Regions from separate parts of the Homo sapiens genome. Here region 2 is linked to region 1. A link means that fine-mapping ties the variant in region 1 to the expression of a gene that starts in the linked region. Tissue or cell type: whole blood. Region 1 holds a variant in brackets; the other region holds the start of a gene. All regions are shown on one strand. Distances are from middle to middle.

What was found. PIP is the estimated chance that this variant, and not a neighbour inherited with it, causes the effect.
Region 2: CTSK starts here. The variant in region 1 is fine-mapped to the expression of CTSK in whole blood (INTERVAL, PIP 0.96).

The regions. Positions count from the first base shown.
Region 1 is chr1:150,560,394-150,568,654 of GRCh38, forward strand. It overlaps ADAMTSL4 (ADAMTS like 4), which reads left to right. Exons shown (of 19, transcript NM_019032.6): 19 at 1-540. ADAMTSL4-AS1 (ADAMTSL4 antisense RNA 1) reads right to left here. Exons shown (of 4, transcript NR_104133.1): 3 at 2,709-2,824; 4 at 502-829. It also overlaps the pseudogene RN7SL473P. Among named protein-coding and RNA genes, the nearest start is that of ADAMTSL4-AS2, 6.8 kb to the left of the region's middle. RefSeq lists enhancers at 414-603, 1,394-1,573, 1,400-2,251, 2,252-3,105, 2,454-2,733 and 4 more. The variant G/C (reference allele first, on the strand shown) is at 4,347.
Region 2 is chr1:150,803,337-150,811,336 of GRCh38, forward strand. CTSK (cathepsin K) reads right to left here and starts at 4,924. Exons shown (of 8, transcript NM_000396.4): 1 at 4,878-4,924; 2 at 3,350-3,470; 3 at 2,766-2,888; 4 at 2,525-2,680; 5 at 685-903. The coding sequence starts at 3,469. It overlaps ARNT (aryl hydrocarbon receptor nuclear translocator), which reads right to left. Exons shown (of 22, transcript NM_001668.4): 22 at 6,377-8,000.

The DNA.
Region 1 (8,261 bases):
GTGCACATATGCCTCAGGTGTGCTTTTGGGACTGCATGGATATGTGTGTGCTCAAACGTGTATCACTTTTCAAAAAGAGGTTACACAGACTGAGAAGGACAAGACCTGTTTCCTTGAGACTTTCCTAGGTGGAAAGGAAAGCAAGTCTGCAGTTCCTTGCTAATCTGAGCTACTTAGAGTGTGGTCTCCCCACCAACTCCAGTTTTGTGCCCTAAGCCTCATTTCTCATGTTCAGACCTCACATCTTCTAAGCCGCCCTGTGTCTCTGACCCCTTCTCATTTGCCTAGTATCTCTGCCCCTGCCTCCCTAATTAGCTAGGGCTGGGGTCAGCCACTGCCAATCCTGCCTTACTCAGGAAGGCAGGAGGAAAGAGACTGCCTCTCCAGAGCAAGGCCCAGCTGGGCAGAGGGTGAAAAAGAGAAATGTGAGCATCCGCTCCCCCACCACCCCGCCCAGCCCCTAGCCCCACTCCCTGCCTCCTGAAATGGTTCCCACCCAGAACTAATTTATTTTTTATTAAAGATGGTCATGACAAATGAGAAATGAGCTCTTCCTTGTCGGCTATGGACCCCTCAGCAGTGTGAAGGCAGAAGGTAGGGTGGGCAGGGGAACAGCATTAGAGCCCAGGAGAGTTTGGGTCAGAGAATCCCCGCCAGCCCCAGGCCCTGCAGGCTGGTCATGGGCCACTAGAGGTCACCAGTTCTCCCATTTGAGGTGTGGGGCGCTGGGTTCCAGAGCTGAAGGAAGGGCTGCGCGGCCGCGGTGCGCTTTTTGGTGGGTCGAGTCTCTCTGGGAAGTCTCCGGGTATCTGCGCCTTTCCGCTGGGGCCTGAGCGAAGGGCAGTTGGCTTGTCGAAGCTCTTTTTTCCTGTTCCCTTTCTCTAGCCCTGCCTTCTGTCTCCCTTTCTGCCGTACGCATATCCCTACGCTCTGGGGCTTCTTCTGGGGTGGGGAAAGGGAAGGGATTCCTGCCCCGAGCCCTTCCCCTGGAGGAGGAGGAGCCCGGCCCGGCTCCAGGGCCCTGGGCGGGGCTGAGGGAGGAGCGGGGCAGCACTGGATGTCCTGCCAAAGCCACATTCCTCAGAGATGGCTCAGCCTGGCCTCCTTCCTCCTCCTACTCGCTTCTCTCAAGGTAGAGAACTTGCTAGAGGCGGCCTGAGAGGGGCAGGCCTTTGCCATCACATCCTCTCCCAGACCCCTGCCATTCGGAGACTGAGGCCGAGTCTCTCCTGGAAGCCGGGCTGCCCAGGAGGGGCGGTGCCGCAGGAGCGCCCCCGCTCGCGACTCCACAAGCCCAGCTGAGCACGGCCGGGAATACGGGGCCTGCGGAAACAGTGAACTCAGTGGCTGCTGTTTTCTGAGCACCTGAACCCTGTGGGGGACGACAGAGTTGCCCGAGGCGGCAGGATGTCCCCACACTCGCGGTCCCCCGCACATCTTCCTGTTGCTTTGGGACTCGGGCTTTCTCTGGGTTGAAAGTGGCTGAGAAGGAAGAATTTGGACATCTTAAGAGGAGAGCGAGTGGGGAAGGAGGCAAAAGGGAATGGAGAAGGAAGATAAAACTGACGTCAGCCCAGGGCAGGGAGCGAGGAAAGGGGGCCACAAGGAAAGCCCAGTTCCAACGTCTCTGCTGAGCCTAAAGAGGCCTCAGCAGGGAATCACAGATGTGGGGGGCCAGGGAAACGGGATCCGAGCCCGCCCAGTAGGTATAGAAGGCCGAAGGCAGAGTCCTGAGACCCAGGGAGGGGTGGGGTGGAGGCTGGGGCCCTCCCAGCGATTCCTGGAAGCCCAGAGCTGGGCGGTGCCGGCTCAGCTGACTTCCCCGAAGCTCCCCTCCCTCTGCTCAGGGCTGTTGCTGGGCAGGTTTGGCGTTTGCCCTGAGCCTGAGAACCAATCGCAGGTGGAGGTGCGGTCGCAGCCCCTCGCAGGGCTCCCCGGCTTCAGCACCCCCTTTCTCTTTCTGCCCGCCCATGAGCTCCCTCTCGGCCTCCAGCCTCTGACCTCTCAGGAGGTGGGCTCTCCTCTGGGGGTCTGCTCCCTTTCCCCTCTTATTTTAGAGCTAGGACTCAGTGCAGCCCCTAAGGATTCCTTCCTCTGGTCACTGAGGTCATTATGGGGTCAATGCGGAAGTTCTCAGGAAAGGGAACCCGACCCCAAGCAATCCCTTTTCTTGGCCCCGTAGAGGGGAGTAGTGTGGCCAGACACCTGTTCGCTGACCTCTGAAACCCTCTGGGGGGACTTGGGAGAGCAGAAGCTGCAGCCTGAGGGCAGAGGAATGTGGGGAGGGCCCCTGGGTTTGGTGCACTAGTGGGAATTTAGGGAAGGACTCAGAGGAACTGGACCCCTGAGAATTGAGATGAGGGTGGGGTGGTGATAGGAACAAACTTGATATGCACAAGAGAGATCAAGCATGCAAAAGGCCTGCAAATTGTTGAGGATGCCTCCTTTCTGAGGGTGTGCTGGGGGAGGGGGTTGTGGTTTGAGTATCAGTGACACTAGGGGTGATCTGTGCTCTCACAAGTTCAGCTGGGTCAGGATTCCTCTCCCCTCCCCCTCCCAGCTTCCCCAGGGTAAATACCCACCCAATTTAAGTTGCAGCTTTTGGACTAAATTTAGCTCCTGGACTTCCCCAACCCCCAGGCCTCCCTGTAAGCAGGTGCTCACAGCTGCAGCATGGGTCTGGTGGAGAGTTTGAACCTTCTCCTCACCTCCACTCATCCAGATTCCACCTTTCTGGTAACTAGGAGTGAAGCAGAGCACAGGAATCCAGTGGCTGGCCCAGGGCATAAGTGTCTCAGCCTTAAGCCACCTTCTCCCAGGAAACCTGTAAGAGAAGAGCTCTGGTGGGAGACTCTAGATGGACATGGAGGGTGGTGGGGTGTAGAGAGAACAAGATGCCAGGAGAGCCTCCCTCCAGATTCTCTCCAGCCAGACCCTCTCTCATTCCTTGCTCTCCCCTTGTCCCCAGGTTTACAAATAGAGACTTCATGTTAGCATCTTCCCCACCAGAGTAAACTGACCCAGGAAGCCCTCTCCTCTCTTTGAACCATGGAGAATCATGCTACCGTAGAAATTATGGTTTGGGGAGGTGTGTGTTTCAAGTAGAGGTGGTTTGCCACAGGTAGGTGATGAAGAGCTGTCAGCTTTAAAGGGCAGAGACACCGTCTAAAGGAAGTAGAAAGCCTCAGGAAAGTACCTAAGTCTAAGTCTGTCAACAAGAGACAGAAAAAGTTTGGGTTAACCTCAAAGTAGCCAGCATAAACCCTGAATCTGACTTTTGGGCTTCCTGACCTAGGAGACTGGGAAAACTCAAGAGGGTGTTTCAGGGCTGAGTCTGAAGGAAGAAAGGATTTGAGGGAGGAATGTATAAGATTAGTCCAAAACAAGGTATGCACGAGATATGGCAGTCAGATGCCAGGGAGCCATCAGCTCTGCCAGCTGAAGGGGAGGTGCAGAGTTGGCTGGAAGCTGGCCAGAGCAGAGCATTTCTCCTGTGAGCACTGGAGAGCTGTGCTGAGAGGCCTGGGAAGAGCCCTGTGCTGGGGGAGGAAGGCTAGGTTGGGTCGGCATGTTTGTGTGCTGTACTCTTCTGAGCCTTACCTGAATCTCTTGAGATAGCTCCACTGAACTTTGAGTGAAGAGGAAAAGAAACTGGGGGAAAGAGGGTGGGATTATAAAAAAAGGAGCAGACTGTACCCCTGGGATCCCTAGGCTAAAAGGCCCTCCCCTTGATGAGACAGGCAGAGATCATCTCCCCTGGAACAAGGTCACCCTTCCTCTCTCCCATCGCTACATTCCTCTCCTCCTTACTGTTGACTATTGGTTGCCTGCCTCTTTCATCACAAAATGAGACTCCTCTTTAGCTTTAGTAGAGGGTTGGGCAAACTTTTTCTCTACAGGAGTAGATGATAAATATGTTAGGCTTTGCAGGACCTATCATCTCTGTTGCAGCTTCTCTACTGTAGCAGCACAAAGCAGCCATAGACAATAAGTAAACAAATGGGCGTAGCTGTGTTCCAATCAGACTTGTGACACTAAAGTTTTAAATTTTTCTTTTTTTTTTTTTGAGACAGGATCTTGCTTTGTTGCCCAGGGTAGAGTGCGGGGGTGGGGCGCAATCATAGCTCACTGCAGTTTTGACCTCCAGGGCTCTAGCCATCCTCCTGCCTCAGCCTCCCAAGTAGCTGGGACCACAGGTGCAGGTCACCACACCCAGCTAATTAAAAAATTTTTTTTTGTAGAGACAAGGTCTCACTGTGTTGCCCAGGCTGGTCCTGAACTACTAGGCTCAAGCAGTTCTCCCACCTCAGCCTCCCAAAGTGCTGGAATTACAGGCATGAGCCACT[G/C]TGCCCGGCCCATTTTTTTCAACCATTTAAAAATACCAAAATGATTCTTAGCTTGTGGGCCATACAAAAACAGGCAGCAGGGCAAATTTGGCAGGGAGGTGGTTTCTGACCCTGGGGATTTTTCCTAACTGGTGACTTCTGCTCTGCCTAGCCATAGAAAGTCCTGTTTGTGTCTCTTCCAGGCCTCAAAATACAGCTGTAGAACCTTTTAATTCAACATACTCTACTGATGCCTGGTTCTTAATTGCTTCTCCTAGGGAATTTAAGGACTTGAAAATGGTTAATAGAGTAAACCCTTAAGGGACAGTCCTGAAACTCCTTCTATTTGTGTAGTGCTTTAAGGTAAAAGCACAAAGCACGTGTATCAATAGTCTCTCTTTAAATCTTTGCGGTAATAAGATAGCTGACAGTATCGTTAAGTCCTGTTTATAGGGGAGAAAATTAAGGCTTCAGATCTAGTTTCTTCACTTTTTTTTTTTTTTTTAGATGGAGTTTTGCTCTTGTTGCCCAGGCTGGGGTGCAATGGTGTGATCTCGGCTCACTGCAACCTCCGCCTCCCGGGTTCAAGCAATTCTACTCACTCAGCCTCCCAAGTAGCTGGGACTACAGGCATGTGTCACCACGCCTGGCTAATGTTGTATTTTTAATAGAGACAGGGTTTCACCATGTTGGTCAGGGTGGTCTCGAACTCCTGACCTCAAGTGATCCACTCGCCTCGGCCTCCCGAAGTGTTGGCATTACAGGCACCACGCCTGGCCAAAAACACTTTTAAAAATTTATTTTTGGTTAGACACGGTGGCTCACGCCTGTAATCCCAGCACTTTAAGAGAGGCCAAGGCAGGGAGATCACCTAAGTCCAGGAGTTGAAGACCATCCTGGCCAACACAGTGAGACCCTGTTTCCATTTATGTAAAAATAAAAGAATTTTTAAAAATTATATGTATATTTTTAAGAGACAGGGTCTCACTATGTTGCCTAGGCTAGACTTGAACTCCTAAGCTCAAGCAATCCTCCCGCCTCAGCTTCTTGAATAGCTGGGCCTATGGGGTGCCTGGCTTCCTTCTTTTCTCTTTTTTTTTTTTTTTTTTTTGAGACAGGGTCTTGCTGTGTCATCAGGCTGAAATGCAGTGGCACAATCACAGCTCACTGCAGCCTCAACTTCCTAGGCTCAAGTGATCCTCCTGCCTCAGTCTCCCTAGTAGCTACGACTACTGGCCATGAGCCTTCTATTACTCAGTTTCATTCACACGGGGCATCTTGTTATCAAAATAATTTTGGCCTCAATGATCCAAACCTTGAATAGTTTTTTGTTTTGTTTTGTTTTGTTTTGTTTTGAGACAGAGTCTCGCTTGGTCACCCAGGCTGGAGTGCAGTGGTGCAATTTCGGATCACTGCAACCTCCTGGCTTCAAGTGATTCTCCTGCCTCAGCCTCCTGAGTAGCTGGGACTACAGGCACGCACCATCATGCCTGGCTAATTTTTGTATTTTTAATAGAGAAGGGGTTTCGCCATGTTGGCCAGGCTGGTCTTGAGCTCCTGGCCTCAAGTGATCTGCCTGCCTTGGCCTCCCAAAGTGCTGGGATTACAGGCATGAGCCACTGTGCCCAGCCCAAACCTTGAATAGTTTTAAGTGTTCTTGCTGTTTTTTTTCAAATGTCTTTCAGGACTTTTCAGCTAAAATTCTGTTTAAACTTTTTCAGACTTTCAAGAAATTAGAAATGCTTTCAAATTCATGATAGTTTTGTGTCATTTATACCCAATCCAGACTTATTTAGACCAAACAGCCTTTTTTTCCTACCAGTGTTTTCCAATTTTTATCTTAAGAGGCAGGGTCTTGCTATGTTGCCCATGCTGGAGGGCGGTGGCTATTCACAGGTGCAATTCTACTACTGATGAGCACAGGAGTTTTGACCAGCTCTATTTCCAACGTAGGCAGGTTCACCCCTCCTTAGGCAACCTGGTGGTCCCCCACTCCCAAGAAGTCACCATATTGATGCGGAACTTAGCATGAACACCAGATCAACATAGCGCACTATAGCCCTGAACTCCAGGGCTCAAGTGATTCTTCTGCCTTAGCCTCCAGAATATCTGGGACTACAAGCGCGTGCAACTGCGCCTGGCCAATTTTCCTGGGTCCAGGAAATGACAGTATTCCTGGTCTTTGTTTAAGGTACACTGTCTTGCAAACATAGGCTTATGTATAATGGTAAGCCACAAGCATTTACTAAGTTTTTTTTTGAGACATAGTCTCACTGGCCCAGGCTGGAGTGCAGTGGCACGATCTAGGATCACTGCAACCTCTGCATCCCAGGTTCAAGCAATTCTCATGCCTCAGCCTCCTAAGTAGCTGGGACCACAGGTGCACACCACCACCCCCATTTTTAGTAGAGAGAGTTTTGCCATGTTGGTCAGGCTGGTCTCAAACTCCTGACCTCAGGTGATCCACCCGCCTTGGCCTCTCAAAGTGCTGGGATTACAGGCATGAGCCACCGCGACTGGTCAAATTTTTCTTTCATACAGTAGCACTGATACATCTTTCATGGTTCATGATGGGGAAAGGAAGATACAGCGACTTCCATCCTGTTTCATACCTGACCCCAACTACCCAGCTTTGAAGTGGGGCAAGGGGCAAGGAAGCAGGTAGCCCAGCACTCCTCCCCGCCATCACCAGGCTCCTCTGCAGAGCTGTTGTTCCTTAAAGCTGACAACAAGCCACCTCATTTCAAAACACACACACACAACCTCATTTTGACACAAAGTTGTTTCCCTCTTTCTGTTTCTCTGCTTTGCCTCATGAGGGATTTCTGAGAAATGAAAAAAAGTCACCTCCCACAGCCGCAGCCTGCAGTTTTGTTTTTTGGTTTTGTTTTTACAGATGAAGAAGAGGGGGGTGGAGGAAAGGAGTATACCGCTTAAGCATCTAGTATTAATCCAAAACTCTGCAAAGTAAGAGAAATGCTCTTCCCATAGCCCTTCACCTGAGGTGTGTGCCCCACTTTCCTTAGATTTGGGCTCTCATGCAAAAGGAAATAAACAAGGTATCCTCCCCTCAGGAAAGTTCAGTAACAAAGCAGTGAAACCGAACAGCTGCTCCCTTGCAGCAGGCCAGCTGTCTCCCCTCCCCCCATTTCCACCAAGGGCCGGAGACGGTGGGAACTGCTCCAGGCAACCTAAAGGATGGCGTTGTGAGCTGAGAAAGGCAGGCCTGATAGATCTGGGCATAGGAGCTTCAGGAATAAAATGCATGTGAATGCGGTGTTTCCCAGGGAGAATTAACCGCATTCTCGCCTTCAAATCTGAATACCTGAGAGTCATAACCAGCCCAGTAGGGTAGACTATGAAATGTATAGCAAAATTTTCAAAACCAGCTCCTCCTACCAGACAAGAAAATTAACATTTTTTAGGGCACAGAACTGAAAGCATTTTTACTGAAATCTAATCCAGGATGAAACCTAACAGTTAAACATTCTTTTCCTTCTCTGCTTCTTTGGCTCTCTATCCCAGCACACCTTGTCCCAGGCTAACTTGAGTAAACATACACATGTGACCACATGAGGGCGGGAAGAACACCAAGTGGGGGTGGTGAAATTCTGAATGGAATGCAGCCCCAGCTAGTTAGGGGGCCCCGGGCTGAGACCTCTGGCACTGGCAGTAGACTTATACAGGCAAAGAAGCCAAAACAATGAGCTCATGGGCAAGAATGCAGCCTGTGGGGAAGTCTGGGCAGCTAGAGCAAACTGGTTTTTTGAATCAGGATGGGAATAGCAATAGTTGAGTCTCCCACGGGAACAGGATCAGGGAGAGTGGAAGCCACCATTCAGTATCTTAGGGTTCCAGTTAAATAACTTTTGGAAGCTCTTATTAAAATTCTGTTCTGCAGACAGCATAGTGCTCTTAGGCAAAACCTTGGTTCCT
Region 2 (8,000 bases), 240 kb after region 1:
AAAAAGAAAAAATGCACTAAGGACACGGCTTAGAACACAGTAGCCATCATTTTTATTCTCAAACTTGCTGTCCCTGTTTCAGAGGTTTCTGTTGTGAAGGCCCTACATTATATTGTCTATCAGACCCAGCCCTATGTGTATAAAAAACCCCTCAGGTTGCCTCCCTTTCAGATATGATTTCCTTCCTATGACTAGAGGATCATGCAGGAGGAACTGAGTTAATCCCTTATCTCTTATATGAAGCAACTTGTTTTTTCTCTCATTTTATAGATGTTAGCATGTAAACTTACATAATTTGCTGAAATGTTCTGAAAACTCACACTGAGATCATATAAAATAAAGCCACACAATTTGTGAAAATAGCATGGTGGGTTTGTGGGTTTGTTGTGGGAGTGAGGAATTGAGCAGAGGGTTATAGAACCCAGCTCGGAAGTCTATGGGGTAGGTAGCCTAGCCTCTGTTTTCTCTCCATGGCAGAGATGCAAATAGGAGCTATAGTAGCTTAAGCTCCCTAAATTCCCCCAGATTGTGGAAATCTTCTTGGCCTTCTGTGGGAAATTATTCCATCAAGAAAGCAGGATAGGATAACAGAAAACAGTATTTCTGGAATTGTTTCCAGTACAAAACATCATGCTGGGGAAGGAGGAGCCAACAGAGCTGTATAATTGTGTGGAGCAATCTCACCTGTCCCACATATGGGTAGGCATCTTCAGAGTCAATACCCCGGTTCTTCTGCACATATTGGAAGGCATTGGTCATGTAGCCCCCTCCACAGCCATCATTCTCAGACACACAATCCACTAGGTTCTGGGGACTCAGATTTAAGAGTTTGCCAGTTTTCTTCTTGAGTTGGCCCTCCAGGGCACCCACAGAGCTAAAAGCCCAACAGGAACCACACTGACCCTGAAAGGCATACAGAGAAACTATCAATCTTTGCTGTTTACATTTTCTATATCTTCTCTCTACCTGCCTGAAGAAATTCCATGTGTTCTAAAAATTTCAGCACAAATGTTGTCATTGTTGTGAGTCTTCCTCTTCCGCTTAATATCTGTTGCACTGTTCTACTGCTATTGATTTTTGCTACCATTTTTACTATTAGCTACAGTAAAGCAGAGCACAGTACCAGCTGTGGAGGCATTTGTCCTGGGTGCTAACCCTGACTTTGCCACCCAGTAGCTATGTGACCCCGGGTAAGTTACTAAATTTGCCTGTGTCTCAGTTTCTCTATGCATAAAATATTGTTATAAGGATTAAATATTTAACTCATGTAAAGAGTTAAGAAGTTCCTGACAAACAATAAAATCTCAAAAAGTATTAGCTATTATTGTTTGTGCAGCTAGATTGTAGATTTTTCTTTCTTTCCTGTTCTATTTTTTTAGATTGAGATTTCCTGAGGACACAGGTTGTGTCTTAGTCATCTTGAGTCTCTGCTGCCTAACACTGCATCTGGTAGGTTCTGGGGGTCAAAAAGTGTTTGTTAAATGAACGTTAAATCAATTGTTTATCTTGCTGATACAATCCTGTGTTGTTTGGGTTGTGAAAAAACTGACATTCTCATGCTAGTAAGAATGTAAGATTGCAAAAACTTTTTTGGGCTGGGCATGGTGGCTCATGTCTGTAATCCTAGCACTTTGGGAGGCCGAAGCGGGCAGATTGCTTGAGCCCAGGAATTTGAGACCAGCCTGGGTAGCATGGCAAAACTCTGTCTCTACAAAAAATTTTTTAAAATTAGCTGGGTGTGGTGGCATGTGCTTCTAATCCCAGCTACTAGGGAGGCTGAGGTTGGAGAATCACTTGAGCCTGAGACGTTGAGGCTGCAGTGAGCCATGATTGCGCCACTGGACTCCAGCCTGGGTGACAGAGACGCTGTCTCAAAAAAAAAAAAAAAATTTGGGGGGGGGGAAAGGATTATTTGTGACCTAACAATTCCAATTTTAGGACTTATTTTGCATAAATATTTGTACATGTGCACAAAAACATATGCACAAGGGTGCTTATTGCAACACTATTTGTAATAAAGAAAAACCAGGCCGCGATGGCTCATGACTCTAATCCCAGCACTTTGGGAGGCTGAGGCAGGTGGATCACCTGAGGTCAGTTCAAGACCAGCCTGGCCAACATGGTGAAAACGCATCTCTATAAAAATAGAAAAATTAGCCAGGCGTAGTGGCGCGTGCCTGTAATCTCAGCTACTCAGGAGGCTGAGGCAGGAGAATCGCTTGAACCCGGGAGGTGTAGGTTGCAGTGAGCCAAGATTGCACCACTGCACTCCATCCTGGGCGACAGAGTGAGACTCTATCTCAAAAAAAAAAAAAAAAAAAAAAAAAGGAAAAGAAAAAGAAAAACCAGAAACAACCCAAATGTACAGAAACAAATGAGGTTAAATAACAGAATGGGAATGGGGAGATGTACCTTAATTCCTTGCCCTCTTTTCCTGGTGCCCTTTCACCTCAAGAACAAAGCAGCAGAAAAAGGAAAAGGTCATGCCAGATTACATATGCACACCCAGAAGAAAGGAGAGTACCTGATTTTTGACAGGAGTAACATATCCTTTCTTTCGATAGTCGACAGAGTCTGGGGCTCTACCTTCCCATTCTGGGATATAAAGGGTGTCATTACTGCGGGAATGAGACAGGGGTACTTTGAGTCCAGTCATCTTCTGAACCACCTCTTCACTGGTCTAAGACAAAGAAGAAAGAGGCCAGGCATCAGCAGGGAACTAAAGCAAATGGTGCAGGTGGGACAGGAGCTGAAGCTATACTTGCCATGTCCCCCAGGTGGTTCATAGCCAGTTCATATGTATGGACACCAAGAGAAGCCTCAAGGTTATGGATGGAAATATACTTCAGGTTTTTTTCCCAAATTAAACGCCGAGAGATTTCATCCACCTAAACAAAGCATAGTCAGTACTTGTATAGACTGTCTACAGTTACATATGTAATATTGTGAAGGGTTTTAGGAGAATAAAGGAAACTCACAATCATAAAAGTTTACAGTTTAGTTGGGGAACTAACCATGGAATTAAGAGCCTGCAAGAAGAGATAATATGTAAACAAATACAACACAAAGCTCTGGAGAGACAGAAAAATTGCTTATAGATTAACAGCATTAATCTTAGAACTCTTCCCAAAAGAGAAATGTAACACACTTATAAAGCAAAGGAAGGATACAGTTTGACAGAGGATGATTTGAAGCATAGGAATGAAAACCGTATGTTAACATGAGTTAGGGAAGAGGGACTGATTTGCTTGGAATAAAGCATTTGGATTGAAGAAGGGAGTCTGGAAGCTAAGATGAGAGAGCTCAGGTCTCAGCCTTCCTGCCATGCCCCCTCCAGGACCCCAGGCACCTTGTTGTTATATTGCTTCCTGTGGGTCTTCTTCCATAGCTCCCAGTGGGTGTCCAGTATCTCCTCAGGGTACAGAGCAAAGCTCACCACAGGTAGCAGCAGAACCTTGAGCCCCCACATCCTGCAGAAGAATGTAGTTAGGGAAAACTCTTCCATTTGGCAGGGAAACAGAGGAAAACTAGGCTTTATGAGGAAGAGAAAGGTAGACGGAAAAAGGGTGATAAAACAATGATAGTCAGGAGGGGCCTGTGTTTAGATAGGATGCTGGTACATCTGGTTCCAAGGACTTTGATCTAGGGGGATTTAGCCATTTCTCTCTTTCTCTCTCTCTCTCTCTCTCGGGAGATTTAGGCAACACACACTCTCTCTGTTTCTCTCTCTGTCTCTCTCTCTCTCACACACACACACACACACACACACACACACACACACACACACACGTACACAACCAGAAATGGGGGATAGAAACTGGACAATCAGAATGGGCTCAGTGCGTTTCCTCCAGGGTCCCTAGCAGGCTTGGAGACAGACAAATAGCAAGGTGGTAGTGGGGTTCAGAATACACAAAGGAGAGATTTCCGTCTAAGTTTTGCCTCCTGATCATTTCTTCGAGGCGTTCTTCTCTTTCGTGCCTAAATTCTGGTACTTTCCCAGATCTTGTCAGAAGAGGACAAGGGAAAATAGGACAATGTTTCCTGTTTTCTGAGACATTGTATATCTCCTCATTCTCCTTATGCATTTCTTCTTCCTTTTTCTCTCCCTTCCCTCCTTAGGCAGGAAACTGCCCTAATCTTAACCAGATGCTGCGGGCAAGGTTTTTTATTTTTCCCCTAACAACAAAAACCCACTGTGGCTGCCGCAAAGGACAAGAAGCCTCAGATCCAAGGTTTGTTAGAAGAATGTTCAGACTGAAAAGCAATGTTCTATGATGATGAAATTCACAGCTTTTCATAAGTTTACTCTAGTTAGCTTCACTCATTTCTTGCATTGGCTTTCTTAATTACAAATCCTCCATTTTAAGAACAATTTGCAGCCTGCAGCATGACATATGGCTTACACAATTGCTTATAGTCCATTTACATGTAATTTTGCAAACTGGCAAAATGTCCAGTAGGACATTTAAAAACTAGAGTGTTAAGGGCTTTGAGATGTCTCAGTGAACAGGAAGCACTGAGCTACTACCTCCCCATACCACTCTCCTCCTCCTCACTAAGGAGTTAACCGTTTTGATCCTTGTTGGCCAAAGTAGAAAACACTGCAGAAAGGCCACTCTTGAAGGATGGGGAAATGATTCCCTATATACTTTGCTTTTACTAACAATCATGTATGTATATATATAAATCATACAAGGAATTCTACAGATTTCCAGGCAGATTTTATTTAGCCAGGGAATGACCTAAGAAGTGCATCTCTGTTTTCATCTGCAGAGGCTAAAAGTTTATTGTGATCCTCAAGTCACTACATCCCTAATACTCAGAGAATTGACAGGAATGAAAAGCTAAAAGATCTAGGAAGTTGCAAACGTTACCTGCTGATGGAAATCTGTTGTCTGGCTTCGTTTCGGCAGCAAAGTGTGGGCACACCATCAGGGGTGCTAGATTTATTCCATCGGGATTGCGGAAGTCAGCTCCAGTGATCGGCTGGAAAATTTGGGTAAGAGGAGGAGGCGGGGATAGAAATGCTGAGAGAAGGAAGGGTAGGGAGGAGGGAAGGAGGCAGTGGATTTGCAGTGTTTCTGTGTGTATGCAGCATGTGTGCCAGGGTAGGGAATTACTAGCTATTTAGTCTCACAAGACTGTCTTTGGTGGCAAATAACAAGACCTCAATATCTATTGACTCAAATAGGAGCTTACTTTCTCTTTTGGTGAGTAAAAGGAAGGACACAGCCCTAGTCTCTCCCATCCTTCTTCTTCAATATCTTTATTTTAATATTGGGGGATTATATCTTTTCCTACCCCTTTCCTGTTAGGATTTACCTCTCCAACATTGAAACCTATTTTCATATTTGTGTCTGACTCTCACCTCTGGGATGCGGTAATGAACATAAAAGGCTATAAAAGAATAATGTAATGGAAGCCATAGGCTCCAGAATTCTTTGTATTTTTATAAGCTTGTTGGTTGCAAGTTGTCATTACTTCCAGGCAGAATAGTTTTCCCAGCCTAATGTGGTTTTGCTGAAGGAGGATATGCCCAGAAAGTCCAGATGAAACTGTCTTTAAAAGTAACCAAAAACAGCAGTCCTGGTTATTTATGACAGCACTTGAATCAATGCCGTAAGTTCTGATGGACTCACATGTGACTCTGTTGCTAAAACTCTCAGGTGGTGGGATGCCCGATAAACATCATCTGTCTCAATTAAAATCCCCAATCTAGGACAAGTCACATGAGCTTCTCCAAATGCTTCCCCAACATCCAAGCATGTGACAGATCATAAGAATCTAGCTGATTCCTCAAACCACACCCCAAACTTCATTTTCTTCCATAAACAGATGTGGGGAAGGAGAAAAAAAGGCTTCTTGGAATAGAAAGGATAATAAATGGGATCTGTAATAGACTCAGTTTCTAGCTGGATTCCATGCATAAACCCTCAAAAATACAGGCTTATGCCTCTGGATTTTAAGAGCTGCTAACAGGCTAGGCGCAGTGGTTCACGCCTGTAATCCCAGGCCTTTGGGAGGCCAAAGCATGTGGATCACCTAAGGTCAGGAGTTCGAGACTAGCCTGGCCAACATATAGTGAAACCCCATCTCTACTAAAAAAAAAAAACACAAAAATTAGCTGGGCATGGTGGCACACACCTGTAGTGCCAGCTACTTGGGAAGCTGAGGCAGGAGAATTGCTTGAACCCAAGGGGCAGAGGTTGCAGTGAGCCAAGATCGTGCCACTGCACTCCAGCCTGGGTAACAGAGCGAGACTCCATCTCTCACACACACACACACACACACACACAAAAAAAAAAAAAAAAAAAAAAGTTGCTAATGAACCAACATAGTCTCCTAGAGGGAAACCAGGTCCAGACTTGAACAGTTTAAATTTCACTCATTTTAATCCAGAAAAGGACATACTGGGGGAAGGCATCCAGATGTGCCCTAGTGGTTTTCAAGTCCCGACTCTTCCCCTCTCTCCCAAGAACCCAGGCAACGCCCACCCCAAAACCCCCACCTCATGGTCAGAGCATTCCTGCTGATGTTACTCAGAATGTGTCAGGATCAGGAGGACAAGTGAGGGGGGAGGCGTGCAATGTGATCAGAACCCTATGATTTCTGATTCCTGAAATTAAAGACACAATGTGCCTTATGTTTGTATGTCTGGAGCTTAAACTATAGATTCCTCTGGTTGTGGGTGCCTGTTGTTTATGAACTGGAAAGGAATGATAAAGCCGCAATCAAGATCACACAACACAAGAAATTTTACAAAAGGAAAAAATATTTTGTTTGAAAATCTTTGCTACATGTCATTATTTTTGCCACTGTAAAGCTTAGCACAGATGCCAGCAATACAGAAATGGCCAACAAGAAAACAAAACAGTCAAAAATAAAACCCTGAAGGAAAAGCAAAAACAAAACCCCCAGAGCATCTTCTCGCTATCCTCCCCTTCCCCAAAAGCCCTATAATAACTGTACAATATTATAGTCCTGATCACATTTAAAAAGTCGATTATTAAAAAACAAGGGTTCCATTGGAAACTCAACTTTTTGGTTTCGTAAATTGTGATATAAATATATATGTATACTGTAAGTGTGCACATAGAATAAAAAAATAAACTGTCTCCTTTTTTACTCCACTACCTGGCACCAGACTGGAGACATAAGGAAGGGAAACTCAGCAAATGGACATTCCTTTGGCCTCTTCAAGGCCACCCTTGCTCCTCAGTCCCCTATGACTACATTTAATATATCTTCTCATTAATTCAGTCTTGCACTTTAGCTACTGGCCAAAGCCAATTTAAAAAAAAAAAAAAAAAAGCTGGTATCTACGACTGTTACCTGAGGAAGGTAAAGGGTGAGGGTAGTAACCTGTATCCGCATTTATATGGCTATTGTTAATTACCAAGTGACCCTGTTGAGATGGGTGTCCAGGCCCCATCTATCATACGGAATTATGATACTTGCACTCTAAAGCAAAACCCAATCTCAAGATTGGAGGGAGCAAAGAGGAAAAACCTCTTAGGGCCAGAGAGACTTAAATCTCAGTTGCTTGCTAAACTGGGTATTTTGAGTATGGGATGAAAGAGGCTACTTTGCAAGAGGGCTTCGTATTTGGTTTACACTCCAACAATGAGGATTTTCACTGGGACGGCTAATCCAAGAAGTTGAGTTTCCATGCAGAAATAACCTCTACAGAACACACATCATATGTGATTCTGACAGAAAAATGCAGCATTATCTTTATGGCCAAGTCTCGGGTTCCAGAAAGTGTTTATCTTGCCAGCCTATTTAGGTAATGTTTGCAGATCTTCCAGATAAGGTGAGAGCACCAAAAGCAGCAGTAACCCAGCTTTATCACTGAATGTGTTCGATAACAGACAATCGTATCAACAGCCGACTTTCTATATTTGCTTTACAGTTGTATATTGGCTGGGCATGGATGCAAGCGCAGCAAAGACGTTTATTTAAATATTCTTTGGCTGCAATACTAAGTGGAAAATACC